Homo sapiens: one gene and its partners. The protein of the gene in region 5 interacts with the protein of the main gene of each other region in a pairwise test. Each region holds a gene or a part of one and is shown on either strand. Other genes may lie near its edges. The genes, in order: VRK1, FOSL2, ZDHHC17, ATF3, ATF2, LHX8 and BACH1.

The links.
Region 1: the proteins of ATF2 (region 5) and VRK1 interact in binary tests that used the Homo sapiens proteins (3 or more experiments, as listed by UniProt).
Region 2: the proteins of ATF2 (region 5) and FOSL2 interact in binary tests that used the Homo sapiens proteins (3 or more experiments, as listed by UniProt).
Region 3: the proteins of ATF2 (region 5) and ZDHHC17 interact in binary tests that used the Homo sapiens proteins (3 or more experiments, as listed by UniProt).
Region 4: the proteins of ATF2 (region 5) and ATF3 interact in binary tests that used the Homo sapiens proteins (3 or more experiments, as listed by UniProt).
Region 6: the proteins of ATF2 (region 5) and LHX8 interact in binary tests that used the Homo sapiens proteins (3 or more experiments, as listed by UniProt).
Region 7: the proteins of ATF2 (region 5) and BACH1 interact in binary tests that used the Homo sapiens proteins (3 or more experiments, as listed by UniProt).

What each region holds. Positions count from the first base shown.
Region 1 is NC_000014.9:96,800,036-96,804,258, reverse strand, and holds part of VRK1 (serine/threonine-protein kinase VRK1), read right to left. Parts: intron 1-4,223. UniProt on the Homo sapiens protein: Serine/threonine kinase involved in the regulation of key cellular processes including the cell cycle, nuclear condensation, transcription regulation, and DNA damage response.
Region 2 is NC_000002.12:28,398,906-28,403,128, reverse strand, and holds part of FOSL2 (fos-related antigen 2), read right to left. Parts: intron 1-4,223.
Region 3 is NC_000012.12:76,808,918-76,813,140, reverse strand, and holds part of ZDHHC17 (palmitoyltransferase ZDHHC17), read right to left. Parts: intron 4,099-4,223; coding exon 4,021-4,098; intron 3,429-4,020; coding exon 3,284-3,428; intron 1-3,283. UniProt on the Homo sapiens protein: Palmitoyltransferase that catalyzes the addition of palmitate onto various protein substrates and is involved in a variety of cellular processes.
Region 4 is NC_000001.11:212,611,199-212,615,421, reverse strand, and holds part of ATF3 (cyclic AMP-dependent transcription factor ATF-3), read right to left. Parts: intron 405-4,223; 5' UTR 401-404; coding exon 161-400; intron 1-160.
Region 5 is NC_000002.12:175,116,013-175,120,235, reverse strand, and holds part of ATF2 (cyclic AMP-dependent transcription factor ATF-2), read left to right. Parts: intron 1-1,866; coding exon 1,867-1,985; intron 1,986-2,117; coding exon 2,118-2,246; intron 2,247-4,223. UniProt on the Homo sapiens protein: Transcriptional activator which regulates the transcription of various genes, including those involved in anti-apoptosis, cell growth, and DNA damage response.
Region 6 is NC_000001.11:75,151,188-75,155,410, reverse strand, and holds part of LHX8 (LIM/homeobox protein Lhx8), read right to left. Parts: intron 1-4,223. UniProt on the Homo sapiens protein: Transcription factor involved in differentiation of certain neurons and mesenchymal cells.
Region 7 is NC_000021.9:29,305,177-29,309,399, reverse strand, and holds part of BACH1 (transcription regulator protein BACH1), read right to left. Parts: intron 4,197-4,223; exon of another isoform or gene 4,078-4,196; intron 1-4,077. UniProt on the Homo sapiens protein: Transcriptional regulator that acts as a repressor or activator, depending on the context. Binds to NF-E2 DNA binding sites. Plays important roles in coordinating transcription activation and repression by MAFK.

The DNA of each region.
Region 1 (4,223 bases), on a different chromosome or scaffold from region 5:
TTTTGGAACAACTGGACATCCATGGACAAAAGGAAAAGAAAAATGTACCAAGATCTAAAGCTCACATCCTGTGCAAAAATGAAACCAAAAAGGATCACGGATCTAAATGTAAGACATATAAGGGTAAAACAGAAGAAAAAATGAGAACAACCTCCTGACCTAGAGTTAGGCAGAGAGTTCTAAGATAGGCACTAAAAACACGATCCATATATTGAGAAGTTGGACTTTAACAAAATTTGAAACTTTTTTGCTGCTAAAGACACTGTTAAGAGAATGAAAAGACAAGCCAGAGACTGAGAGAATATATTTACAAATCATATATTTGGCAAAGGATTTTGTATACACAACATATAAAGAATGCTCTAAAATCAGTAAGAAAACAAACCAATCACAAAACGGGTAAAAGACTTGAACAGACAAATCACCAAAAAAAATATGAATGGCAAATAAGCACATGAAATCATCAGCCATTAGGATGCAAATTAAAGCCATGACAAGATACCAGTACGCACAAAAAATATCACCAATACCAAATGGTAGTGAGGTTGTGGAGAAACTGTATCTCTCAAACACAGCAGCACCCCCTTCATCTGTGAGGGATACATTCCAAAGCCCTCAGTGGATACCTTAAATGGTGGAGAGTATGGAGAGTATCGAACCCTACATAAATACGTTTTTTCCTATACATACATTAGATAGACATACTTATGATGAAGCTTAATTTATAAATTGGAGCCAGTTAAGAGATTAACAACAATACTAAGAGTAATTATAACAATATGTCAGCGGCCAGATGCGGTGGCTCACTCCCTGCAGTCCCAGCACTTTGGGAGGCAGAGGCAGGCGGATCACCTGAAGTCAGGAGTTCGAGACCAGCCTGGCCAAAATGGTGAAACCCTGTCTCTACTTAAAATGCAAAAATTTGCGGTGCGTGGCAGCAGGCGCCTGTGACCCAGCTACTAGGGAGGCTGAGGCAAGAGAATCGCTTGACCCTGGGAGGCGGAGGTTGCAGTGAGCTGAGATCACACCATTGCACTCCAGCCTGGGGGACAAGATAAGAGACCTGCCTCAAAAAAAAAAAAAAAAAAAATGCCAGCATCACTAGTCTTGCACTTGGGGTCACTACTAAGTACAATAAGGGATTCTCAAACACAAGCACCAAGACACCAGACAGTCAATCTGATAACCAAGAGTGACTAACTAGCTGGTGGGTAGTGTATACAGTGTGGATATGCTGGACAAAGGGATGATTTACACCCCACCTGGGACAGAATAAGAGGGCTCAAGGTTTTATCACTATATGACCCAGCAGTTGAATTTCTAGATATTTATTCTAGAACAATTAAAACTTACAGTCACAAAAGAACCTGTACATTAATGTTCATAGCAGCTTTACCTGCAATCACCAAAAACCAGAAACAACCCACATGGCCTTCCATGGGTAAATGGTTAAATGTGATACAGCCATAAAATGGACAAGCACTGTGCAATTATCAAAAGCAGGAAAGTGACACTAATACAATATTCATCACTGAACTACTTATTGAAATGTCAGCTTTTACATTCTTTTGTGTGTCTAATTCTAGGACATTGTGTCATGTGTACAGATTCATGTAACCATCACCATAAACAAGACACTGAACTGTTCTATCATCTCAAAGAAAGTCAGCCCTAACCCCAGCAAAACCGGTCTGTTCTGCATTTCTATAATTTTGTCATTTTGAGAATCCTATATAAATGGAATCATACAATCTCTGAGACTGGCTTTTTTCACTCAATACAATGCCCTTAAACTCCAACCAAGTTGCTGCATGAACCAACAGTTTGTTTCTTTTTTTGATGGTGGTGTTCTACCGCAAGACTATCACATTTTATTTAACCATTCACCCACTGAAGGACATGTGAGTTGTTTCTGGTTTTTAGCTATTATAAACAAGGCTTCTACGAGCATTCATGTACAGGTTTTTTTGTGAACGTTTTTATTTCTCTAGGATAAAGGCTCAGGAGTGCAATCGCTGGATTGTGTGTCAAATGTACGTTTAACTTTTCGAGAAATTGCCAAACTAATTTCCAGAGTGGTTATATCATTTTACATTCCTACCAGCAACATATGAAAGATAAATTTTAGAGTCAGCATTTCTAAAGTATTTTCTGCAAGTCTGAAAAAACAAGATTAAACTTCTTAAATGTTATAACCTGAACTTATTTTTAAAAAATGAATTTTAAAACTTTTTTCCTGATTCCCAAATAACAGATTACCTCTAAGAAAAAAATGCATACAGCTGACCCTTGAACAACATGAGTGTGAACTGTGCAGGTCCACTTATACACAGATTTTCTTCTGCCTCTGCCACTCCAAGACAGCAAGACCAACCTCTCCTCTTGTTCCTCCTCCTGAGCCTACTCAACACCAAGACAATGAGGATGAAGACCTTTAAGATGGCCCACTTCCGCTTCATGAACAATAAATATATTTGCTCTTTCTTAGGGTTTTCTTAATAATATTTTCTTTTCTCTAGCTTATTGTATTGTAAGAATATAGCATATAGTACATATACAAATATGTGTTAATTGTTTATGCTATTGGTAGGGCTTCTGGTCAACAGGCTATGAGTGGTTAAGCTTTTGAGGAGTCAAAGCTTATACATGGATTTTCAACTGCATGGGGGTCAGCACTCCCAACCCCTGAGTTGTTCAAGGGTACACTGTAATTACATATAATCTCTATGTTGATAGCTGTTGCCAAATTACATAGTAAACTGCAATAAGATGTGAAAAAAGCAACTCTAAAGACTACAGTAGAAACATTAACAGTTTCTCTCCCTGTGTCTTCCAGACACATTCTATAAATACTTAAGGTCTAATAGTTCTTTCTAACACTTAATATTGTGAAACGCAATCACAATGCACTAATACTTAGTGTCATCAAATGATGACTTTTCTTTAGCTGTCACTTGATAAAAACAATCTAAGAAAAGCAATTAACCTGAAATAAAGCTGTGGTTATCTTAGCTATGTCTAACTTCATGGTTTGTTTAATTTTAGATATAAATGACAATTAGATAATGCAATCTCTTTTGGATTCTTAAAGCAAGTATCTAAGTCTAGAGCAGACATATCTGCCGACATACAAACAGCCAGACAGACGGTCCTCAAAAAGAAAATAAAATAAATACACAGAAAGAAATTATAAGGTCCCTGGAACAGTGGAATGAGGCTGCTCGTGTTCCTAATGACTTTCAGTTCTCATGTTTAGTCCCCTGCAGGACCAACTATATTGTTCCTGATACTGAGCTCCACAAGACACGTGTCCTTCCATTATCAGTATGATATTTGCTTTAAAAGTATATGACAGACCATTCCCAAATCTCAAATTTAATTTGCTTGTGCTTGCAATTTAATTATTTACTTCATCTAGTATATCTTCCCATTTAATGAATTACTTACCAATAAACATTTTAGTATACACGTTTAATATTCATCTTAAATATTTGCCAGTGTGAACAGTATCTACCTTAATTTTCAAATCCTAGAGTACTGGTTCCCATCCTATGGGCAAGAAACCCATAGAGAGATAGGAGTAACTGCAAAGAATCATCAAAATCCATATACTTACCTAAAGACTAAATAAATGTGATTCACAAACATATATGTTTCCAAGCTGACAAAGATACTGTGGCTAATAAAAATCTTAATAAATTTCCTGAAGAATGTTGGTAAAAGTAGAGCAGTTTCTTCTCATCAGTATTTATTGATGAATACTAAAAATCTAACTCCTAATATGGGAGAAGGGCCATCGCTCGTACCTCTCTAGATTTTCTAGAGAGCTTTTCTTTTTTAAAGTGTTGCCCATATGTCACTCAGAACAGGAGGAGTAGGATGTGCTTGAATTTGAGTGCAAAGATTTAAGACAACATTGGGAGAGATGGAGCAGGAGTAATTGGGAAAGTGCATGAAATTACTTCAAAACAGCAACTTCAGAATGCTGGGTGCTTAAATATCATTCAAGCACCAAAGGGAAAAAATTCAAAGGACAGAGCCCTCTGCATCTTTATAATGGCAAGTAGAAATATATTCACAGGAATTTTGATCAAAAGAGCCAAACTTATCCTAGAGTAAAAATACATCTTGGTTACAACACCTACCTAAATGTTTTATTAGGGTTCTATCACCCTTTTAAATTAATCTTGTACCTTTATTAAACATTTTCTACATTTTAACAT
Region 2 (4,223 bases), about 150 Mb from region 5:
CAGCTTTTCAGAGGCAAGTCCCCCTAATGGAACCCAGGTGAACCTTCATCTTCAGATGACTCCTGTGTCCACATAAAGCTTCTCCAAGTAGTTTCTTCCCCACTTAAAAACTGGGTGAGATGAAGACAATAGCTAACAACACTTCCTGGGCACTTACTAAATGTCAGACACCATGGCTTACCTAGATTATCTCACTAATTCTCTCTCTGAGTGAAGAACGACCATTAGCTCCATTTTAGGGACAGAAATTTAGGCTTAGTGAGATTAAGTAACTTATTCAAGGCCACATTGCTAATAAGCAGCGGGGTCAGGATTCAAACCCAGTCCAGCCTGACAAAGAGGCCAGAGCCCCTGAACACAGTGGTATACAAGCTCCTTTTCCATTGCTTTCTTCCTCAAAATCCAGCCCTAAGTGCTGGTTATCCACCCCCACTGCCCTCAGACAGAGTGTCAGGTCATCCCCTATAGACCTCCCCTCTCACAAAGAAGGTACCACAGGTCTGTCTGGCCCCGAATGGAACCCCACTATCATTAGCATGGATGCTGTAGAACCCTCCCTATGCTGGTCCAATCAGACCAACTAGGATAGAAGCATTCGCAGCAATGGAAGCTGGCACCACCATTGTCTTTGCCTTGTCACAACATCAGGGTTCCTGCTGTGTAAATAACACATAGAGTACCTCACTACAGCTGACAGAGCTGGGGACCCCTTCTTGCTCAATTCCCTGCTATCTGCCTGACCCTAGTCTGCATGTTGGAACGGCTGCCTCATCAACCAGACCACCTCGGGGGCCCAGGCCAAGGGCTTCAGTGAAGAGAGCTGCCCAGCACAATGGATTCTGGGATTCTGGAGGAAAGTTACCCAGTGCAATGGATTCTGGGGTTTGGGAGGAGAGCTGCCTAAAGCAATTGGTTCTAGGATTCTGGAGGAAAGTTACCCATTGCAATGCATTCTGGGATTCGGGAGGAGAGCCACCTAGAGCAATGGGTTCTGGGATTCTGGAGGAAAGTTACCCAGCACAATGCATTCTGGGATTCGGGAGGAGAGCTGCACAGAGCAATGGGTTCTGGGATTCTGGAGGAAAGTTACCCAGTACAATGCATTCTGAGATTCAAGAGGAGAGTTGCACAGAACAATGGTTTCTGGCATTCTGGAGAAAAGTTATCCGGTGCAATGCATCATTCTGAGATTCAGGAGGAGAGCTGCCTAGAGCAATGGGTTCTGGGATACTGGAGGAAAGTTACCCAGTACAATGGATTCTGGGATCCCGTGAAGAGAGCTGCCCAGGGTGATAGATTCTGAGTTGCATTTCTGAAGGCAAAGAAAAGTGGGCTTTTTATCAGGCGCTGACTGAAAAGCAGCAGGTGTGTGCATATGAAGGAGGGAAGAGTGCAGTGAACAGGAAAGCATCCAAGTGGGAAATGATCTTCAAGGAGGAAAAATGGCCAATTGGGGCTGGGCTGTGAGTAGGCAGAGTCGTGAGAACAGCAGGCATGGCTGAGTGTGTGTAGAAGCACCAAGTCCCAGACAGCTATTTTTTTCCTGAGCTGCTGGATGGGAGGGGCGGGGAGTCAACACTGCACTCGGGGTCAGGAGGCATGGGGTTGAGGCCTGGCTTAGCCACTGAGTGCCTTGCCCTGGGCTCAAGGACTCAATTCCATGGATGTAAAGGGGAATACTCATCAAACTCACTGCACTGCCATGAGGATTAAATGAGTAGCTACTTGTAATCACAGGCTATAAAAGCACGCCAGTGGTTCTCAACCCTGGCTACACATTAGAATATTCCAAGGAGCTTGTAAAAAACACACTAATGTCAGAGCCTCGCCATTAGACCTCTAAAATAATTGGTTTGGGGCAGGGCTCTGATAAGCTTTTTTTTTTTTTTTAAACCCCCAAGGAGAGTCTGTTGTGCAGCCAGGGTTGAGAAACATTGCTCCAAACCAATGGAAGGTCACCATCACCACCACCATCATCATTAGATGTGCCTGTGTACTCTGCCCAGGAGGCTCTGGGGAGAAGTGCCAGCTACCCACTCCTGGGAAGCACCCAACTTTTAAATTCCATTTCTCTCCCCAAGCCAGGTTCTGGGTTTGAAATGCACCTGAGGCATTCAGCACAATGGTTTGATATGACTCCCTCCTCCATGGGGAAGCTGTCAGCTTTCCTTTTAGGAAAGCACCTAAGAAAGTCACTCCTCATTCCAACAAATAAAAGTGCTCCCGTTTTAGGCTTGGGGAACCCAGCAGAAAATCTGAAGCAAAGCTGAGGGACAAAGACCCCTTCAGAATAAGTGGATGCCTATTAGCCCCTCTGAGGCCCTCTAGTCCACCCGCTCTGGAGGGCAGGTCCGTGGTGTGTGCTCCCCGGTATACATCAGCCAGATTCCTCGCAGCAATGGCTTGGTCTAGACAAAACAAGACAGCAATAAAAACCAGCCAGGAGGTAATGACTGCCTCTGAAACGCATGTACACCTTGTTTCAGACAGGAGGCAAAGCCATCTGGATAATACACTGGCTCTAAACTGCAAGGAAAACAATGTCCCATCCCCAGAGGGGCCCGGGGCTCTGATAAAGAAGGCTTTTGTCTCCAAGAGGAGCTTCTCTTGGAGACACACAAAAGTTTCAATTAGATCTGGCAGATGGGTCTTGTCTCAACTCCCAGCATGTTATTCAGAAACGTGTTATTCAGAAACGTGTTATTCAGACACTGGGGTAGGAGAGAAGAGGTGAAGTTAGGAGTTTGTGGTCCCAGAAGTTAGCCTAGCATTCTTCTATGCCAATAGACCCGAGAATCAGCCACATGTCACACTGGAGATAAATCGTGGTTCTCTACGGACGAGTTAACACTAAACACAAACCAAGATAGAGCTGCTCAGCTGGGGGCTACAGGGCAGTTTCAAACCTGCTGCATGCATGCCAGGAGTGTGCTGGGAGTGATGGGATCAGGAGAGGTAACCCAAAACCTCACTCGGCTGCCTGGGGCTCTGTAGCCAACATGTCCTCCTCAAGGACACTTTGAAGATGCTGGATGCCTATGTAGCATTCCAGCCTGGCAAAGCCTCCAAATATTTCACTGTGTCACCCTGTCAACTGCGGGGTGGGCAAGAATGCCTATAAAAGGATATAGTGGTCCCCATCCACCTCCTAGAGCAGAGTTTAGCAAACTTTTGCTGTGAAGGGTCAGACAGCAAATATTTTAGGCTTGGTGGGCTATACGGTCTTGGCTGCACCTCAATTCTGCCACTGCAGTGCGAAAGCAGCCCTAGATAACATGTAAACAAATAGGCAGGACTGTGCCACTGTATTTTATTTAGAAAAATACTCAGGACATAGTTTGCCAACCCCTGTCCCAGAGGTTCATTCTCATCTCCCATGCTCAGGTTGGAGGGAAACGAATACAGAGGAAATAAGAAAGCAAAAAGTCAGAACTGAGATGTTCCTCCAACCCAGGTAGCCGAGGAGACGGGCTCTCACTTATCAGCTTGAACCTCCAGACCCTGAGCCGACGTTCAAACCCTTACAAGCCTTGTGGTCTTTGGGCATGGAAACTCCCATCACCCTGCTGTACCCTGTTGCTAGGGTGCCACCGGGCTGCTTGGGAAGGATGCGTGTGCTCCTTCCACTGCCAATGAGAAAGACGGCCGAAAACACGGACCCTCTAGGGCCACCAAACCTCAGCAGGTCAGAGAAGTTCCCCCCACAACAGTTGCTGATTTGGGAAAACTGCCTCCTGAGACTCTATACTGGAGCCTTGGCTTCAGCTATGAACCCATGGCTTTTTGCTGACAGGTATTGGAACTAGGGTTTGGGCCCCTACAGGACCGGATGGGGCCGAGGGCTTATCCCAGAGACTCGTGAGTGGGCAGAACTGGTATGTGAGATGGAAGTCAGGGTTGGGGTTCTTGGCCCAGCCCCTTGGCCAGGCGATTCTCCATCAGATAGATTTTTGTCTGGGTTATCAAGCATTCAAGCCATGAAGCCCTGTGGACTCTGTAAACTGCCTTGCCAGGCAAGCAGGTATGATTGAGTGTATCTAGGAAGGGACTGGGTTCTTTCCCTTTAAGAACCCTTTCTTTAGATTCCCAGGATGGAAAAGGGACAATTCCAACATCCTAGAAGATTGGCTCCCAAGAAGAGAAAAGGATAAGGGCACAATCTGTCTCATACCTCCCATCACATCCCCACTGAGGTCCAGTTTAACGCAAATACTCTGTATTTT
Region 3 (4,223 bases), on a different chromosome or scaffold from region 5:
TTAGTTGTGTTTTCATATCCTTTTTAAAAAATGATAGTATTAAAAATATCAATAAATAAAAAAATGTAAAATCATGGCACATCTCTAGAGTACTAAAAGAAAAATGAAATTCAACCTTTTCTCTCTTTGGGTCGGGATTTAAAACTTGGTACTTCTTTTCCAAGTTCAGCCTGGACGTATGGGTATTCTCTATTAGGAAGAATTAACAAGCCCAGATCAAAAGCTTATGGGAATTCCATGATCAACAGGGCTCCATAACTTAGCATTTTCCCCTTTTTCTCCTGAAAATCATCCAAAAGAATTGGTAGTGAGCACTAAATATATTTAACAATATAACTAAAACAAAACGATTGTGAAGAATAGAATGACAAAACTGAATGGAAATGTTATATACCCTGACAATGTAAAATTGATATAATTAACAACAAAATGGGAAAATGGAAAAAGGTTGAAATGAAAATATGCTGAGAGCCTCATCTATAGTAGCCATGAATCAAAGAAAACTATCTAAAGCTGAAAAATCAAGTAATAAAAATGTAGTAAAAATTTATCAGAACATAGTTAACATTAAGAAAAACAATATTATTGACTACAGTCGATAAAAGAGAAAGGGAAGAAGAAATAAAAATATGCTAATTTTATTACTGCTTATAATTAGGAACTATGTAATCAGAACTAATAAAATTTGAGCAACCATCTGACTGAAGAGAGAGAGAGAAACTGTGTGACTATCTGAGGAAAGAATATACCAGCAGAAGAAACAGCAACCAAAAGGCCCTTAGACAACAGCATGTCAGAGTTGCTGAAAAAGTAGCAAAAAAAAACTAGTGCAGTTAAAGCAGAGTGATGATGGGGAGATGGCAGAAGTGGAGCTCAAAGGTATCCAGGGGTTAAACGGCACAGTGCTCTAGCACAGAGAAAAACTCTGGGCCCTCACAGTATGATGCAATGCACATTGGAAGAGTGTCTTTTACAATATATTAGTGTATACATGTTGAGTATCCTTTATGTAAAATGCTTGGGACCAGAAGTGTTTGAATATGTGTATGTTTTTCCTATGTTGAAATATTTGCATATATGTAATAAAATCTTGAGAATGGGACCAAAATCTAAATGTGGAATTCATTCATCTTTCATATACACCTTATACATACAGCCTGAAGGCAATTTTATTCAATATTTTAAATAATTTTGTACATGAAACAAAGTGTGTGTACAACGAACTATATTGGAAAGCAAAGGTGTCAGGGGTAAAATTTTCCACTTGTGGCATCATGTTGACACTCAAAACGTTTTGGATTTCGCAGCATTCCGGATTTTCAGATTACAGATGCTTAATCTGTACATGGAATAAAATCTCTTAAAATACATACTACATTATTAAAGGAAGTAACCTCAGTCAGCAGATGGCCAAGGGGAGAGGTGAGATTTCATTTTCTAAGTCATATTCTATTATGCCTGAATATTTCATAATAAACATTTATTATCTTTGTGTGCAGAAAAAAAATTTACTCATGGAAAAAAAAAACTATTTCTCAGACATTTATCATCATCATTATCATCATCATGCCCTTTTTGTACCAAAAGCACTGACAGGTAGAAATCCTGCCCTTTGAGAATTTTATAGCCTATATACTATACCAGAGGTTAAAAAGATTAATGAAATAATCCAAACTCCAAAATCAATAAGTTAAAAAAAAGACCATGAAGACTCAAAAATGTACACCACCTTTCTTTCCCAGTTAAAAACTGAAAGTAAAAAAGTGAATGTGTATTGTAGATTTATTCTGCAATATGGAAGGCCACTAAAGACCTTGTGATGTGCTATAGCACCATTTACTGCTTCAACGTTTGTTCTAGAAAAAAACTGCAGAATAACAAGAATAATCTCCTATAGCAGTTGCTCTCCAGATGACCCCCCATAAACCTGGCCTCTTGGTATTCACACCCTTGTGTGGTCCCTTCCCTCCGGGTGGTTATGGCCCTTGTTAACTCACTTTAACTGATAGAATGGAGAAAAAACGTTGCTGTGTCAGTTCAAGACCTAAGACTTAAAAATGCAAAACAGCTTCTACTTTTGTTCTTTTGGGAGCTCTAAGCCAATATGTAAGAAGTCTAGTTCTCCTGCTGGAAAGACCACATGGACTGGTATTGAAAAGTAGAAGTTCTGACACTACATAGAGAAAGAAAGAGGCCTCGCTGCCCCAGCCTCCCAGTTAAGCAGTTTGTAGCCATTCCTATCAAGTCACAAGATATGTGAGCCAATCTTCCAGCTCAGTCAAGCCGCCAGACAACTGCAGCCACCAGCCAAGGAGAAAAACCATCCAGCCAAGCCCACAAAATTGTGAGACGTATTAATTGGTTGGTATTGTTCTTAAGCCATTAGATTTTGGCAGTAGTTTTTTAACACAGTAACAGACAATAACCCCCCCTCCCCTTCCAGCAATTAACTTTATCAGTCTATGCCTCTTTTCCTAAACTATAATGCACAACACAACTGCCACTGCTTGAGACTGCCAACAACAAATACTGTAAAACCTTCATTAAAAGAAATAGTATTCAAATTCTAAATCCGCATAGAATTTTAAATTAACAATAAATACATGTTGATAGCAACAAATTAAATACATATATCTTAAAGTTATTCTTGTGATGAGATCCTTACTTATAAAATTAATGTTCAAATATAACCAGAAAAAACACACTAAAGAAAAACTGGGTGACATTACTTTTAACAAAATACGTTTATTACAAAAACATGATTATATAAACTGGTAATATTTAATGTGATTATGGTCACTGCACACTCAAGAAAAATCAGGAACAACCACTTAAAATATGATGTTTTTCTGACAAGTAAGAAGCAGCATTATCTTATACAGCAGAAACTGATCTTAAAAAATGTATCCCTCTCAAGAGATATTTAATATATAAAATAACCAATAAATAAGTTCAAAAAAGTTTGGATGAATTCAGATGATATATTCAAAATACATAAAGAAAAAATAGATACTTATATTTTCTCTCTTAATTTCTGAGCTTTATCTCCATTACTCTTAGAAATAAAAAACCCAACTTCATCATTATCTGGTTCATGATTTTCATGCTGGCTTTTATGTTAGGTACATTAAATATCTCCATATCAAACTCACTATATTTATGTTCTTCACCCATCAGAAAGTGCTATTTAAATATCAACGGCTTGTTACAACACCAATAATATTAGGCATTTAAACTATGAAGAACATCTGATTAAAATCCATACCACTGAGATTTTTTTTACCTGTCCTTTTGCTATGAGATAAGCAACAATTGAGGTATGTCCGAACTGAGCAGCCAGATGAATACAGCTACATCCTTCTCCATCAATTAATGAAGGATCTGCACCATATTTCATTAGTTGCACAACCATGGATAGATGGCCTTGTCTAAAACATAAAAGAATAAACACTTAGATATATAAAGTTATTTCAAACAGGATCCTCTGGGAAGAGCTTTTTCAAGTAAGGTATGGTGGGAAGATTACGTATGTATTTTGAAAAGTTATTTTAAAATAGATACATGTCAAAATACATTTAGGATTTTATGGTTCTTAGAAGTCTTAACTAGATTAACAGTCTGAAAATGTATGGAAGTACTCATAACTTATTTAAATATATAGTAAATAATTACTATATTCTATTATGTCCATTCTAATATTATCTCAATCATCCCAAGAAATGAGCTAATTCTTTCATTGTAAATATATACAGGCTGCAAAAATATTACGTTTAGAAATCCAAAGTTTAATCCAATCTTATAACTAACTGAATTAATATCAGCATGGCCAGGGAAACTTTGGACAATAAACTTTTGCTTCTTTACAGGTAATATTTCACAATAAAACATCAGCATATTTATGATATTAACTAACGGCATAATAAGCTCTCCTATTCATTTTAGTATATCATTTTTTTAAAGTTGTTTATTTATATACTAATAAAGGAACCAAAGGAAAAAAATCCAGAAGCAAATTTAAACCTTGTGGCCCAGTGCAATGGAGTTGAATTCAGGTCCCCTCCAAGTTGATCCACAATAGCACCTTTCGAAATATAGTATCTATAAGACAAAATTTATAATAATTTAAATAACTTTCATTTTCAATTTTAAGAAATTTTGTGAAAAATATGTAAATACATGTTTTCTATTTCAGATCTCATGCTAGTTTGAACCTTTGAAAATAA
Region 4 (4,223 bases), on a different chromosome or scaffold from region 5:
ATGTACTTCTGTCTCCTCCCAGGAGAAGGTAAGCTCCCTGAGGGCAGTGGTTTTGTTTGTTTCACTCTCAACAACAGCCCCCTGCCTAGAACATGCCCAACACACAGTGGCTGCGAGCGAAACATGTGCCGAAAGAATGAATACCTGTGATAGAACCCACCTCGGCTTTTGTGATGGACACCCCGAGGGGTCTGTCGCTGACAGTGACTGATTCCAGCGCAGAGGACATCCGGTGGCAGAGGTGCTTGTTCTGGATGGCAAACCTCAGCTCTTCCTTGACAAAGGGCGTCAGGTTAGCAAAATCCTCAAACACCAGTGACCCAGGAGGGGACAGGCAGGGGACGATGGCAGAAGCACTCACTTCCGAGGCAGAGACCTGGCCTGGGTGTTGAAGCATCATTTTGCTGAAAGACACATTGAAACCCAAACTGTTTCAGGGGCTCTGGGGCATGGGATCAAGTCCCCCTCCCCCACCAGACCTCCAACACCAGAGCCCCACCCTCAGAGAAAAGTCCCATAAGCCCTTGGGTTTCTGTTTTGTTTTCATTTCATGCCATCCTCATCTTAAGTAAAGCAGGTTCTTAAAATACACATAGCTCAGTGACATGAACAAAATGCCTATTTGAAATTTATAAGGGATGATGTTTCAGGCTACTCTGAATTCACAAGATCTATGAGTTTTGGCTGGTGTGCCTATGTGCAAATGTGGCCACAAACAGTCCTGAAAGAGGAAGAACATTTTTTAAAAATCAGTGAGGCCATTTTAAAAATCATGAGTAATCTCATTTTCAGCTTCTTTTTCTTTCTCTCTCTCTCTCTTTTTTTTTTTTTGTATATTACTCAAAATAAAGTTTCTTTCACTTAAAAAAAAAAGCCTCTTTTTCAAAGAGGCTTGACGTCAAGCTGAAACTATCAGTGAGTGGAAGTAAAAGCAAAAAGTGGGGAATCCTTGAATTTAGCAAATACATCTCTGAAGCTTCTCCCCCGAAGTTGGGCCCAAGCAATGGGAATGAGAAAGGTAACTGTAGCCAGGTGCGTTTCTTCACCCCAGTCTTTGGCAGGGGATGGGGAGGTGGATTCTTAAGGTTAAGGTTGGCAAAGCAAAAGGTCTTAAAGAAAAGTGAGGCACTGTATTGTGGGGGAGTTGTTCAGGCCTGTGGTATAGGGATAGACTTAGGCTGGGTGTGGGGGCAGGGAACCCTGGGGCTGGCTCTGGCACTAAACAGCAGTGACTTGAGCTAGTAATTTCAGCTCTCTAGGACCCAGTCTGTGTCTGGTAAATGACTGACAGCTCCTCCAATGCAAGCATTGAGTCTCCACCATTGCTTTACCCAGAGCCTGGCCCAATGCCTGACTCGCCATGCCTCATTGGCCAACTGATAAATGAAGTGGGGATGGGGTCATCAAATCAAATGGCCCCCACGGTCCAAGGTTACCTTTCTCATTCCCATTGCTTGGGCCCAACTTCCGAGGGAGAAGCTTCAGTGATGTATTTGCTAAATTCATCTCCCTCTGTTATTCTATAGCTCGGTGAACCCAAAAGGATGACAAAAGGAAAATAAAGAGTAGAAATAGTGACAGTTCCATGGCCCCAATTTGGAAGAGTCCCCCATAAGTCTTGGCCTGCTGTGTACTCCCTCCAGTGGTGGCCATTTCCCCTCCTCCCTGCAGTTGGTTCCCAAGGGACAATGAGTATAGGGATGAGTGTAGGATGAGTGTGGTCTGGGCATTCCTCTCAACCGGGGATCTGTGGTCATTAGCACAGTCCAGACAGAGAAGAAGCCCTCTGGCAAGTCTCGAACATTTAAGGAGTGCCTCCTTCATACCAGAAACCTTAGGGGCACTATCTCATTTAATCCTCACGAGAACCCAGTGAGTTAAGATCTAGCTGCCTTTTATAGATGAGATAATTGAGGTTTAGACAAACTAAGTCATTTGCCCGAATTCACAGAATTAATATGGGGCAGCATCAGGATTTGGAATTAAGTTAGTTTGGCTCCAGGATTCATGCCCTTAATTTGTACATTGCAAAAAACAAACAAATATTATTCTACATTACAAAAACAAACAAGCATTATGTTATATTGCACAAACAAACAAAAAACCAGAGCAAATTTTCTCGGGGCAGGCCTTAAGGTAGGTGGGAGGCCTGGAAATGAAGTGATAGAGGGGAGGCTAAGTAAAGATTCCTCGGGATAAACTGAACTCTGTTTAATGAACTGCTAATCTTTATGTCACGGTGCATACCCAGGCTGCTTGCTAACTGCCTTCTGGGAGTGTGAGCAAGTGGGTCTCTTATCCACAAAATTCCCAGACTGAGGTCAGAAGATGAAGATTTGAAGCCCACTTACTCCATTATGTGTTATCATTGTACCTCCCCGTGGCTTTTTCTCCTCTGTTAAAGAGGGCTTGTAATAATCGCCCTATTTTCCCATAATATCCTATGAGGAATTGAGGAACTAATACATGAATATGCCCTGGAAAACATTCTTTGGCCAGGAGCTCCATGATTACTAGGCCTCCCAGAGATCTCTCCAGCCCAGGGCTGGCTCTCTGACAGAGGCTCTGTGGAGTCCAGGAAGGAGGGCAGCTGGTCACCCACTTTGATCTCAAAGGCTTCTGAATAGAATACCCTGACTTCAAACTCCCCCTGGAGATCTAACATACACCAATGGAGGCAAGACTTCCAGGCCAATGAAATCTGCCCTTGACTAGTCAAAGAAACCCAGGCTATGTATGTAATTCTTTTCCCAAAGCCCTGTGTCATGAGTCAGAACTGAAGTTCTTCTCTCAATTTAATCCTATAATCTTAGGATGCTGGGAGGATACTTGTCGCTGTCAGGCAATAAACTCTGAGAAACTAGCCTTCTAAAGCCAGAGGCTTAAGATTCTCCCATGCATTCATGTTTCCCTTCCCTTTCCAAGTTTATTAAAAACTCAGTGATTCGGGGATGACATTCAGAGCTGCCACTGGGCTGGTCTTTGTTTGGAGGCCTGGATGGCTCCCTTCTACACGGGGACTTTGAATTCCACTGCAGTAGAGTGTAGTTCCATTTTGCCATCCAACTAGGTTTATTAATGAGCTCTCAGGGCTTGGGGTCTGCTGTTTATGACTCCCGCCCCCTACCCTTCTTCTTATGTAAAGTCAGCAGTCCCAATGAAAGAAGCTGAAGAATGTCAGTGGTATGGAATGCTTTTATGAAAAGCATTGGGTGGGCTTCCTTGGGGACATAAATGGTTGTAAAAATGTTAAAAGCCTTTCAGAAAATAAAACAGATGTATCTGTCGAGATTTGGGTTTTCTCGGCACTAGGCTAAAGCTTAACTTCTCGGGATACTTTCTAGTTATTCCTTTACTCAGTCTCTCGAGGTATGATTCAGCCTAGACTACGGCTGTGTCCCCACAAGGAAATGAAGTTAAATCTTCACACAATTTTTCAGAAAGTTGAGATCCTCAAACATCCCGGTCATTGAAAAAAATTGTTTGGGGACCTCAGATCAGAGTTGACTTTCTATGCTGATCATAAAATTGTTCAGACTTGCTACCAAGAACTTGCATTTTGTTTCTGCTTGATTATTTCCAATCAGAAATCATGTTGTATCATTGGCAGTTTCATCATTTTCAAGAAAGTGAAAGTTTACTCATGTATTCCTTTAACTGGAAATTCAGCTCCCAGATTTTTATTTCCTAGTAGCTACAGCTACATTGAATTTTCACTTTTAATTTTCATCCTCTTTCCACTAAGCATTGCTTGCTAACCATCTTATGTTACTAGGAAGCCAGTACTGGCCTTTCACTAACTCTTCATATCTTGGTCTTCCTCCCAGACCTCTTGAAGAGGTGCAAAGCTGGGCATCAAGGGCCAGAGACAATGTTTCTAAGCCTATCAGTGCCACTCATAAGCTGAGCATCCACCAACAAATCACTTAGGCTTTCTGGGCCTCTCATTCTCTTCCTCTGTAATTTGAGATCAAAACTGCCTTCCCCAAAGGGCTGTTGAGAAGGACATATGAGATTTACATACACACCGGGTAGTCATTACTACTGTGACTCCATCTTCTCCATTTCAGGAAAAACTCATTCTGTTGTTATCAATTCAATAAAGCCCTGTTAGTGAGGAATTAACTGGAACCTTCAAGACATTCAGGTCAGTCAGAGCCTCTTTTGTACTCTCATTGACCCCAAGTTCTTCACAGACCAGGTAGGTTTCACCCCACTATTTG
Region 5 (4,223 bases):
AACCTCGAAAGTTCACTCTCCTAGGCATGAAGCTCTTTGTTTCTCTGAAACTTTCTGCCTTAGCACAATCTCTGTCTGTGTGTAACTCTTTAACTCAAATATGTTTTGAAATTGGTTTCTAGAAATTACTTTCCTGTCTGATCACATTTAATGCAGTAGAAAAATAGAGCACATTCAAACACAGTACTTGACCTTTTTTTTCACTAACATGTTGAGATGAATAGGTTAACATTACTATGCAAATAAAATGCATGATGTGTGTGGTATATTTTTGGTGATCAGTAGCCATATGCAATGTGCATGTTAAATGATTGTGCCTATGTTGACTTTTCTGAAGTCTGATGGTTCCAGTAATCATTGATAAAAGTGACTTATGCTTATGTATTTTATTTTTTTAAGATTTTCCCCTCCCTTTAATGTAAGTTAAGAGCCTTCTGATGAACTTAGATAGACAAACCCTTTGGGTGTGAACAGAAGAGTCACATTTAGATTTGACCTACTAATTTAGTCATGATGGACTTAAGCTAATACATGTACTTTACTTACTGTAATGTGATTTTTGAGATCTTTTGGGAGGTGGGAATTAAGGGATAGGCTAGAAACTAGTAAAATTATGATATAATAGAGTCCTTTTAGTAATTCTGATATTACTAACAGTGCCTGAAACAGGCCTGCATTATGTCTAGTTTTGTATTACAAGTGGGTCATTTTAGTGTGAAATATATTTGTACATAGTAAAAATACTAGTCCTCTAGGTATACATGTGGGGGGCAAAGGTAAAATAGGAAGTAATGCCCTCTGTGGGGACATAATGGTTAACAAATATGTAAATTTTAATCTTACAAAAGGAATTAGGAGTATTTTCTCTTAAACCAAGAGTCTTCCTTAGTAGAGTACTTTTACTTCACTTAGGCTAGATCCCTGCTATAGCCTGTAAAATTGGTGCTCTAAAATATATTAAATGTGAATAGAATTTGAATGTGCTACCAACTCTAATCAATATGAATAGACACCCTTGAAAATAGTAACACTAAATAGGCAGAATTTATAAGTTTCTTGCTTTTCATTCAGTGTAAATCTTACCTGGCATTTTTTGTAGCCTATACATGGACACTGAGTACCTATGTTAATGTACATAGTAGGAGTACATATTCGAGTAAAGTTGAAATGTTTCATGTTGTAAGAAAATAGAGTAGACTCTTTCTTTACTCCTTAGGAATTAAGCTAGAACATTCTGGAGGCATGTGACTCACACATATTCCTTGTACCTAGCTTGTAAAATGCATTAAATTAGAAAATTAGTTTCAGTAGATAGTGGTAAAAAGAGGGTTTGTTGTTTTAGGGCTGTTTTAACTTTTTTTTTCTTTCTTACAATATTTTTATCTACCTATTAAAGATTGTTTTATCTTAGTTTGCTTTCATAATAGAGTATGAACAGCTAGTGGAAGAACCAAGTTAAAGCAGATATACATGCTCTTATCCTAGTTTTCCCCAAATTTCATTTATTTAAATAATTGTAGTTTTTAATAATGTAAATTTAAAAAATTCTTTATACTGTGTTAGATAATAATAGTTTATCTCTTGAGTAGAGGATGTTTATGCCATTCTACTCAGAAAGAAGCAGTGGACTAAGGAGCAAAAAGGACTTCTTTCCTACTTTCATATTTCATAGTTCTTAAAGTTGGAGGAAATACGAAGTACAACAAAAATTTAACCAAATTTTGTTTGTTTTAAAGGAAGAGGTCTTTCCAAAGAGAGAATTAACAACTGACTGAACCAGTCCTGCTAATTTGTTAACTTAGTAGCTATATTTTAGAGTCTTAACATATTTAAATATGCATGATTACTTCTTGACATTTATTTCAGATCAGACCCCAACACCAACAAGATTCTTGAAAAACTGTGAAGAAGTGGGTTTGTTTAATGAGTTGGCGAGTCCATTTGAGAATGAATTCAAGAAAGCTTCAGAAGATGACATTAAAAAAGTATGTTGTAACCATGAAATTTAAAAAGAGTACTTCTGACAGAAAAGTAATCATAGTTTATACTTCCTGCTTTTTAAATTTAGACACACTGTTTTTGAACTTATAACCTTTTCCTTATTATTTGAATTATAGATGCCTCTAGATTTATCCCCTCTTGCAACACCTATCATAAGAAGCAAAATTGAGGAGCCTTCTGTTGTAGAAACAACTCACCAGGATAGTCCTTTACCTCACCCAGAGTCTACTACCAGTGATGAGAAGGTTAGAAATTTTTAGAAATACAAAGTAAGGGGGAGGAACAGTACCCAAATAAAGTTTACTATTTAATCTCCATAAAATGTTAATGTATTAAATTCAGTGTCAGCTTGCAATAGTTTTATATGTGAAAGCCTGTCAATACTCAGATATTTCAGGGTAAGAAGACTGCAGCTTTTATTGTACATAGAAAAATTATAGGGGAGAACAGTCATGTTACATAAAACTTATTTTTAAAAGATATATAAATTTATAAATTTAACTTAATTTTTCTGTGTTTTGCTATTTTATATTTAGCTACTTTTATACAGTAACAGCTTAATTAAGAATCTATTCAAAAAATTATTTGAACAGTGGTTTTTTAGACTTTTACAGGATTAAGGGACTAGTTACTCATTCTCAGCAGTGGATCTTTGTTAGCGGCAATTAGGACGATGATGATACTAGCTTGAATACCCAGATAATCTGGGACCACCTGGGCTACAGTTGTGTGTTGAGTAACATTATTATGGGAACTTCTTGATCACTCTTTTGTTCACAAGCACATAGAATAAGCACATATTTATTTGGGAGTACCATGCAGGACACAGCGAAGGGCAATGGGACACATAAAGAGGCAGTGGCAATATTCTTTTTTAGATTGTTATTCTAAAACCATACTTATTAATGGACTTCTGTCATGGCAGAGGAGCTAGAAATAAGGAAATACAGAAAAAATAACTTTTTGGCTAAGAATAAATGCTTTGTTTTCTGTTTTTTTTTCTTCATTTTCTTTTTCTCATTTTAAAAGTACATTCTCATTCTTCTTCTCTAAGAATACAGAAACATGAAAAGAAAACCAAAATCACCTATTAGCACATAATTGAATAAGAATTACTATCTTGAAACATTTTTTTCTAGATATATACATTTATAGGTACAAATACATAAGTGAATAGTTAAATAGAAGGATAGATGGATATAAAGATCCTAGCTTTATTTTATATTGTGCTTTAGACCCTCAGTATTGATGAATATTTTCCCATGTCATTAGAGAGTTCCCCAAATCATACTTTTTAATGATTGTACTTTATTTTATTATATGATATGTATATGTATTATGTTATCCTGTTCTTTTTGGACATAAAGGTTGTTTCCACATTATTACAGTTATTGGAAATGCTTTTTAAATCTCTGATACAAATCTTTTTTCCTAGAGAGCATTTCATTCTTTTCACACTTAACAGTTTTTCATTGTTCGTGGCTGCTTCAGCATCTTTTAGGAGTATTCCTTCTTTCTGCATTCCCCAATCATTAGGCCCTCCTTGAGCAAGGTATACCATATGAAATTGATTTAAAAAAAAAAAAATCTGGACCTCTTCTTCTTTCTTGATTTTCTTCCTAGGTGATCTCATCCAGGCCCATAACTTTAATAAACATCTACATACTGATGACTCCCAAATTTCTATGGGCATAGGTATCTCACCAGATTGCCAGATTTATATCCAACTCCATCTTGACATTACCTTTTCTATGTCTAATAGACATCTTAAACTTAATAGGTCAAAATCAGAGTCCTTGATTCTTCCCCCAGTTTTCCCCATCTCAGTAAATTTTCTCCATCCATTTAGTTGTTCTAGCTGAGAATTTAGGGGTCATCCTTAATTTCTTCTTTCTTTTACACTGAAACTAACAGCATATTTTATCAGACCTGAATCTCATCCTCTATGTCTGTGTTCAGTGACACCACGTAAGCCCAAACCATCATCATCTTTTGTTTGGATTATTAACAGTTACCTTCTAACTTGTCTTCCTGCTTCTACCTCCAATCCATTTTCTGTAAGATGACTTTTAATACATTAAATATGTCACCTGCTTAAAATCTTTCAATGGTCTACCATTGTATTTAAAATAATTCACACTCCTTGGCATAAGCCCTCTTTGATCTGGGCCTGTCTACGCATCTATCCTTACCTCATGCCTCTCTATTGTGTTCATCAAATA
Region 6 (4,223 bases), on a different chromosome or scaffold from region 5:
TACAAAAAATTAGCCAGGCATGGTGGCGGGTGCCTGTAGTCCCAGCTACTTGGGAGGCTGAGGCAGGAGAATGGAGTGAACCTGGGAGGTGGAGCTTGCAGTGAGCCAAGATCATGCCACTGCACTCCAGGCTGGGCGACAGAGCGAGACTCCGTCTCAAAAAAAAAAAAAAAAAAAAAAGAGAGTGTTTCTTCATTAAAATACTGTATCACTTTTTTTCCATCACTCCAAACAATTCTGTCATGAGAGGAAAGAGAGGCGAAGGGATAAAAACTTAGCATGAGAACATTTTGGGATCAGGGATATGAGGCCAGGAAAACATCAGGGGCATAAGTCTGTTCAAGGCTGGTGGTAGGGCCTTGATGGCACAAGGCAATCAGGGCTGATTAATGTGAAATAAAAGGAAGCTGCAAAGAATTTATAAGAAAAAGCTGGCCTTACTTCAGAACTACACCCTGCCCCTGGCATTCAAAAATAGAAGGTTGGCAAAGTATACTCTCAAGAGTGATTAAAACTAAAAGAATAAAAAATTAATAATCTAGTGGGGTATATAGCCTTGAGCAGGAGGCTGAAAAGTAGCAGCTAAGGAATGTTTCTGGGACAAGACTTAGGTATCCACCAGTAAGACAAGTGGGAAGTCACAGCCTCCTCCACATCCCTGTTCTCTGGAGTGTTAGTGAGACTCAGAGATACCTATAGACCACACCCCAAACTCCACAGTTCTGCCCACAGGCTCTGGAACAATAGATGTCACTACTAACACTAGTCTCACCCAAATAGGATGACATTACTCAAACATTCTCCAATGTGTAAGGGGGAACCACTGCCACCGGCCTTTTTCCCTTATGGGACCCAGAAGACACATACGCCAGAGGACTACATATAACCTAAAACATGTTGCACTATGATTCCCAGAGTTTCTTCAAAGTATCTTTTTGTCTCCAATAAGTTATATATTGAATGGAACCTATGCAGTTGTAAAACAAAAGAAACACCATCTTTTGATTGAAAAAAAAAAACACTCAAACTTTGTAAATAAACATGAAGAAGGTATAATATAAACAGCAGAATAACTATCTTGTTAAGCAGCTTCTTGGAAAGATCATCCACAGGTAATCAAGCAGAAGGAGGTTTGCAAAAACAAAGTATCATGTAACTAACTGGTAGAGCAAAATATAGTTTAAGATTCCAGACATCAGGAAATTCCTTCTGGCATGAATGCTACCCAGCTTCAGAATCAAGTATAAGTCCTTTTGACTCTCCTCACTGACAAAATTTCCTCCTTCTTGTTTGCAAACCTCCAACAAGAGTTAACATTTTCTGAGTAACTACTTTAAATTTTTTGACTTCTAAATCATAAACTAAGCTAAAATCAGGCCATGTAGATATAATGGAAAAGCAAAATACTAATGCAGAGAATGAAACCTTTAGAAAGCCCAGACAAAAAGCCAAATATAATAATTTTGTATATGACAAAGATGGGATTTTATTTTATTGGGAAAGCATGTTTCACTGATTTAGGGAAAACTGATAGTTTATCATTTGAAAGAGAGAAAAAAATAGATAAAACCCTATCTCCCATGAACCAAGCCAGATAAATTAAAGTTTAGGCGTAAATAATTGAAACAATAAAAGTTTAAGAAAACAAAAGGCAACATTGAAATACTCTCTAGATAGGGAAGCATAAGAAAGGCCAAAACTAGACCCGGCGTGGTGGCTCACACCTGTAGTCCCAGCACTTTGGGAGGCCGAGGTGGCAGATCACAAGTTCAGGAGTTCAAGACCAGCCTGGCCAACATGGTGAAACCCCATCTCTACTAAAAATACAAAAATTAGCCAGTCATGATGGCAGGTGCCTGTAGTCCCAGCTGCTCGAGAGGCTGAGGAGGAGAATCACTCGAGCCCAGGAGGCAGAGGTTGCAGTGAGCTGAGACTGCACCATTGCACTCTAGCCTGGGCAACAGAGCAAGACTCCATCTCAAAAAACAAAACAAAACAAAACAAAAAGGCCAGGCGTGATGGCTCACTCCTGTAATCCCAGCACTTTGGGAGGCCGAGGTGGGTGGATCACGAGGTCAGGAGTCGAGACCAGCCTGGCCAATATGGTGAAACCCCGTCTCTACCAAAAAATACAAAAATTAGCTGCGTGTGGTATCACGCACCTGTAGTCCCAGCTACTCAGAAGGCTGATGCAGGAGAATCGCTTGAGTCCGGAAGGCGGAGGTTGAAGTGAGCTGAGATCGTGCCACTGCACTCCAGCCTGGGTGACAGAGTGAGACTCCATCTCAAAAAAAGAAAAACAAAACAAAAAAAAAGGCCAAAACTATCAAAAGACTGGGAGATTTAAACACATAGAAATATAAATGTTCTGTGTGGAAAAAATAAAAAGGAAATTGATGAACCGTGAAAGGTTAACATGACAGATAGGATTAATAAATATCAGTAAGATATAGAGAAAATAACCCAACAGAAGAGTGAGCTAAAAACATACGGTCTTAAAAATGAAAAAATAAACTAATTTGTTCAAGCTCATTGATAATATAAGAAACAGAAATAAAATCAATGAGATTTTCTTTTCTAACTATTAAATTGTAAAGGATGTAAAAGAGTAACAGTATTCAGGATTCTTCTGAGTTGGGGAAAAGGAACTCTTGTACGTAGCTCCTGGCAGAATAAAGTTGTATGAACTTTCTCAAAGGCAAAGAGATTTCATGTTTGTATAAAGGCCCTATGCATGTTTTATCTTTGGACTCAACAATCTCCCTTCCAGAAATTTATCCTGAGGAAACTATTGAACAAGCACGCAAGGTAGATATACAATGTTGCTCATGGCAGCATTTTATAATAGTGAAAAATTGGAAGCTAAATAAATTGTGCTATGCTCAATATATGTGGCAATAAATATGATGTTAATATGGAAGGGTATTCCTAGTACACTGATTGGAAGAAATAGCAATAGTTTACTCTGTCTCTGCACAACATAAAAATCATAATTCACTTATCTGAAAGAGTATGTGAACAGTGATTGTATCTGGATGCAGTGTGTGGGGAAAAAAATCACTCATCTTTATTCTTTGACTTCAGTATAAGGACAGTCTGCTTTATTACAAATGTCTTACTAAGCATATTTGTAACTAGGAAACGTGAAACTCTCCACGTATCACACCAGTTTCCTCCTAATCTTTGGGTGACCTAGTTTGCATATTAGAAGAAGTCTAGTAATAAAAACTCTTTTTTCTTACCTTTCTAAAATATTATGCCCAATGCTAGGAAGGAGGCTGAGGGAAAGTATGATTACTATTTGAGATCACAGTAATTCTTATAAAATACTCTGAAGGGCTACAACATATAGTGAGCCTATGTATAGATACAAATAATAAACACATAAGCATGCTAGTACTCTTTCCTTTGGAATCATATCAAAAATATTTAATGTTCAACCTTAACATATTGAAAGCCAACATTCAAAATATATTCTCCAAATGGTAGGGCTTAGGACAAAGTTAACTTGCTCATAGTACTAGTAACCTAAATGCCTGGAAATTACATGACAGATGTCTGCCTGTGTTCCTTAGTCCTTCAAATATGAAAAGCTCTAAGAAAACTCTCCTTCTTCTTTGCTTCCAACTTCAAAATGATATAAGTCATGCATCTGACTTACCTGAAGCTATCATTGTTATGAATATACAGAGTCTTAAATTAGAAGGAACTTTTAGCCCGTGGAGTCGGAACTACCTGCCAAAGAAAACTGTTCTCCCAGGCAGAGGAAACTCACTACCTTCCTTGGTAGTCCGTGCCATTTGTGTAGCCTTTCAATAATGAGAAAATTCATTATGAGTGAACACCAGTGCCTTTTTCTACATTCCGTTGCAGGGAAGCCTTTCACAAATATTTAAAGACACCTACTCTGGATATTACTCTTTCTCTTACCATCTCCTGGCCTTATCTCCAGATAAATATCCCTGCTGCCTTTAATATTATGGCATGATCTAAATCTTTCACAACCCTGGTAGCCTTTGAGGTAGTATGTTTTTCAGATTGCTTATTAGTCCCTTCTTAAAATTTGGCACTCTGAAATAAGCACAATAATCTGGATATCTGAAAGTGCTGAAGTGGTAGAACTTGTCTCCTAAGACAGCCTCATTACCTTGCAGTCAATTAAAACACTGTGAACCCTAGGTCTTTAGAGAAGCTGCAGTATCATCAGGTCTTTTCCATCTGCT
Region 7 (4,223 bases), on a different chromosome or scaffold from region 5:
GGAGTTCAAGAAATACCCCAAGTATCCTGTGTGTGATGAGAAGGAACACTATTACACAAACAGATTAAATGGGCATTTGTGGAACAACAAATTTCCCCTTATTAATCAATATTTGGTGAATCTTTCTTTTTTTTTTTTTTTTGAGACAGAGTCTCACTCTGTCACCCAGGCTGGAGTGCAGTGGCACAATCTTGGCTCACTGTAACACCTGTCCCCCAGGTTCAAGCAATTCTCATGCCTCAGCCTCCCAAGTAGCTGGGATTGCAGGCGAGCATCACCACGCCCAGATAATTTTCATATTTTTAGTAGAGACAGGGTTTCACCATGTTGGCCAGGCTGGTCTCGAACTCCTGACCTCAGGTGATCTGCCTGCCTCGCCCTCCCATAGTGCTGGGATTACAGGCATGAGCCACCACACCCGGGTCTGGTGAATTAATTTCTAAATAACACTCACTAGATCATATAACCAATCTCATGCATCACTGAAAGGAACCTGACACTAAACTGTGCTCAACTTAAATCATCAAGGTCTATAGTTATACATACTACATATGGACAACTAGAAGAAGAGAACACTAGGAAGTATTTCACTACAAGTTACTTTCAATACAGAGGATTAAGCATCCATGTTCTATTTTCATAATGAAATAAAGATTCTTCATATGCCATCTTGTTTTTTAAACTGTAAAAATTACAACCATAATTCATATTCTTTAGGAGGCGAAAGCCCTAAAACTAGTTGATGGCCAAAATGACCCCCTGCAGGTTTAAGAGTTGACACACATAGTATGCATAGTAACCGAAAAGATAAAATAAACAAAAAAAGTGCTCTTCAAATTCCTAACTATACACCAACTCACAATAAAATTTGAGTCAAAAAGGGGGGTGAGGGTGGAGGGAGGTGCTTAAGAGTATAAAAAAGAATGTTAACAATTTTAATTAAATAAAACAGAAGTTACCGTAGGGCAATCAGTATATCATATGAATCACAAATTTGAAACTGTTTTATTCAAGTAGAGATACTAAACTGAAATGTCTTATTTAAAAACAACCTAATCCACTAATCCCTAACAGCCACCGTAGGGCCACAGTTTCTCAATATACATAGCTAAAACTAAAAACATAAGTCTATTTTTTACTATTTAACTTGGGAGTCAAAATAATCATTTCTAAAATGAGGATTTCCAAGCTACAGATTTGCACCAGTGATCTCAGTAACTACTTTTCATTATATCATAACCACAAGATTCAGCCAAATAAGGAACAATTTGCAGCCTATAAATAAAGCTGAAATATAGCTCAGTTTAAATAGCATCTGAGGAACTACTGAGTAGGGAAATACTATTGCATTTATCTGAGACAAAAATTATATTGGTAGTACAAGTCTTTCTAAATTCTATCCAAAAAACTAATACCAGTTCAGAAGCCTACTCTGGCCATTTATCACAGTCTATTTGTTACTCTCAAAAAGAAACAACCATTGAGCAATTCTCATTTTGTAAATTTACAACACTCAAGTGTTTAGGATTTACATTATTTGTCTGCCTTTCACAGCACAGAAAGCACCCAGACCTGCGATTGAGAAGGAACAAGAATGAAATACAAAAGTGCTTTTACACAGTGATCATACTTGTAACAACATACACAGGTGTCCCCCTTATCTACAGGGGATACATTCCAAGAACCCCAGTGGATACCTGAAACTGCAGATAGTAACAAACCCTATATATATACTATGCTTTTTCATCAAGCACAGTAAGAGATTAACAATAATAAAATACAACAATTATAACCATATACTGTAATAAAAGTTATGTGAATGTGATGTTTGTCTCTTTCTCAAAATATCTATTGTATTTAATATTTTTGGACTTCATCTGACCACAGGTAACAAACTGCTGAAAGTAAAACAGTGGGTGGGGATCCTACTGTATTTCAAAATTGCTAAGAGAGTAGATTTAAAGGTTCTCACCACACACACACACACACACAAAGGTAAGTGAGGTAATGGACATGTTAATTAGCTTGATTTAATCTTTCTACAATGTACACATACAGCAAAACAGAAAAGTTAGGAGTACTACAAGAATACTGTATAAACTTAAGGTGGCATTAATTTTAAAGTCTGAAAAGAATGACGAATAAGCTAACTACGGGACAGCTTTCCCTTCGAGGAGGGGAATGAGTGTGTAGAAAAGGGAAGATGTTCCTGTTTGTACTCCTGATTCAAGAATTTGCATTCTAAAGAATCCTGACCCATCTAGCCAATGAACTAACAATTCTATCTGAGCCAGGCTGGCCTCAGCACTCAGTGCAAGCCATAGAGACCACAGGTGGGTGTGCACTATGGACTGAGGGACAGAGTAGTCCTCTTAGTATACACATAATCAGAAACTACAAGATATAATTATATGTTCTCCTCTCCCTGAAAGGAATAAGACAATGGCAGGGAACTTTTGAAATGTTTAAAGCATTGAAAAAAAAAATTATTTCTTCTATATATATTTATTGACAAAATTGGCATTTTCAATTTTTAAATAATTTTTAAATAAACCATTGATTTGATTTGATTGTAAAAGTGCTACTTGATCATAGAAGGAAATGGCATATAAGAGGAAAAAAAGTCACCTAAAATTCCAAATCCAAAGGCAAGCACATTTTCTTTTTCTCCTCCGAAGTTTGTATCTAAGTGTAGTGGTGGCAGAACTAGTAGACAAGGATGTCACTGTTAACTGCACAACACCATTCACCCCCTCACTTTCTAACCAAACCCTGACTGTGCTCACGTATCTACTCTCAACCCGAGGCCATCAACTTCCAAGGAAGTAGACCCCAGCCACAACCTAAGATGAATCACGATCCATTTATGCCAATCACAGCGGTACTATTCCCCTTGACCTTGACTCATTTAGGCACTGGCTTGTGTGCAATGCTGACCTATGAAGAGAGGAGAGAGGGACAAGGTAGCATCTGCTATGAGGCTTTAGGGAAAAATTTTTCTCACTGATAGCAACAACCTAGGAAAAAAAAAAAAAAAGTGTGTCTTCTTCCAGGAAACTTAAGTCATATTTTCTTGTGACACTTGAACTTGTGGCAGCCATCTTGCAACCATAAGAGGAACTTGCCAAGGACAAAACAAGGACGTTGCCTGCATCTTCAACCTTTTTCCATTGACTGGATTTTTAAATACACACACACACACACACACACACACACACACACACACACACTCTTCCTGACCCAACTTCTCCCTACTAAAATCTATTTCTCTCTCCTCTTATTCACAGCTAAGCTTCTCAAATTGAGTTGATACAAGTTGTTTCCTCCACTAACCTATGCATTCATCACTAAACATCCCTAAGGCTTTCTTGATTTCCCAAAACTTAGGCTTTTAATAGTCTGTGGTTCCACAGCACATTTTACATGTTGCTACTATAGCATGCTATGGGAATAGTTTGCCTGTCTATTAGACTGTAACTTCTGAAAAGTTCATTATTGCCAATATCTGGAAAAGTTCCTGGCTTATAAAAGCCTAAACATTTGTTTCATAAGTTAAATGTAAACCAAATGCCTAACATGTAGGAATGCCACAAATATTGACATGAATTTAGCAACCCTACTGTCCACATACACTGAAAGTTAAGTATGCGTTCATGTGAGTTGGGGGAGAACAGCAGCAGGAACAGGGAGAAAAGAGAACACAGTGCCTTAGCCTTGAAACTTAAAAACACAGTTTTTCCTCACTCTTCAGAGATTAGAGAGCTGTTCCAAGCTAATTCAACAAAAAAGAAGAGGCTGTTTCCACACTGGCATCTGAGAAGCAGTGGTAGGATAGCTCTCTAGAATCTCAGCTCCTCTGCTATTTGTGACCACTGTTGCCAACCTGCTCAAAGAAGAAAAGGTGGCCCAGCCTTTCTGGGGTCTGGAAAAAGACAAACTAGTCCAAAGACAGGAGGCCCTCAGAGACAAAATATACTTTTTAGAAATCTAAAAAAAAATACCTATAGTTTGAATAGCACTTGTGACAGTCTTTTACCACAAAGAGACAACGAAGTAGGGAAAGTTAATCGTAATTACATGCTCATCCCCAAGCAGCATTTCCTTTGACTTCTCTGGATGACAACTGAAACTGAAGGCATGCCAGCAAAGAATCCGAGTGAGCTGGGCAAAATGCTCTCTACTTCAACAGTCTTTTGCTAATGTGAAAGAAAAAAAAAAAAACA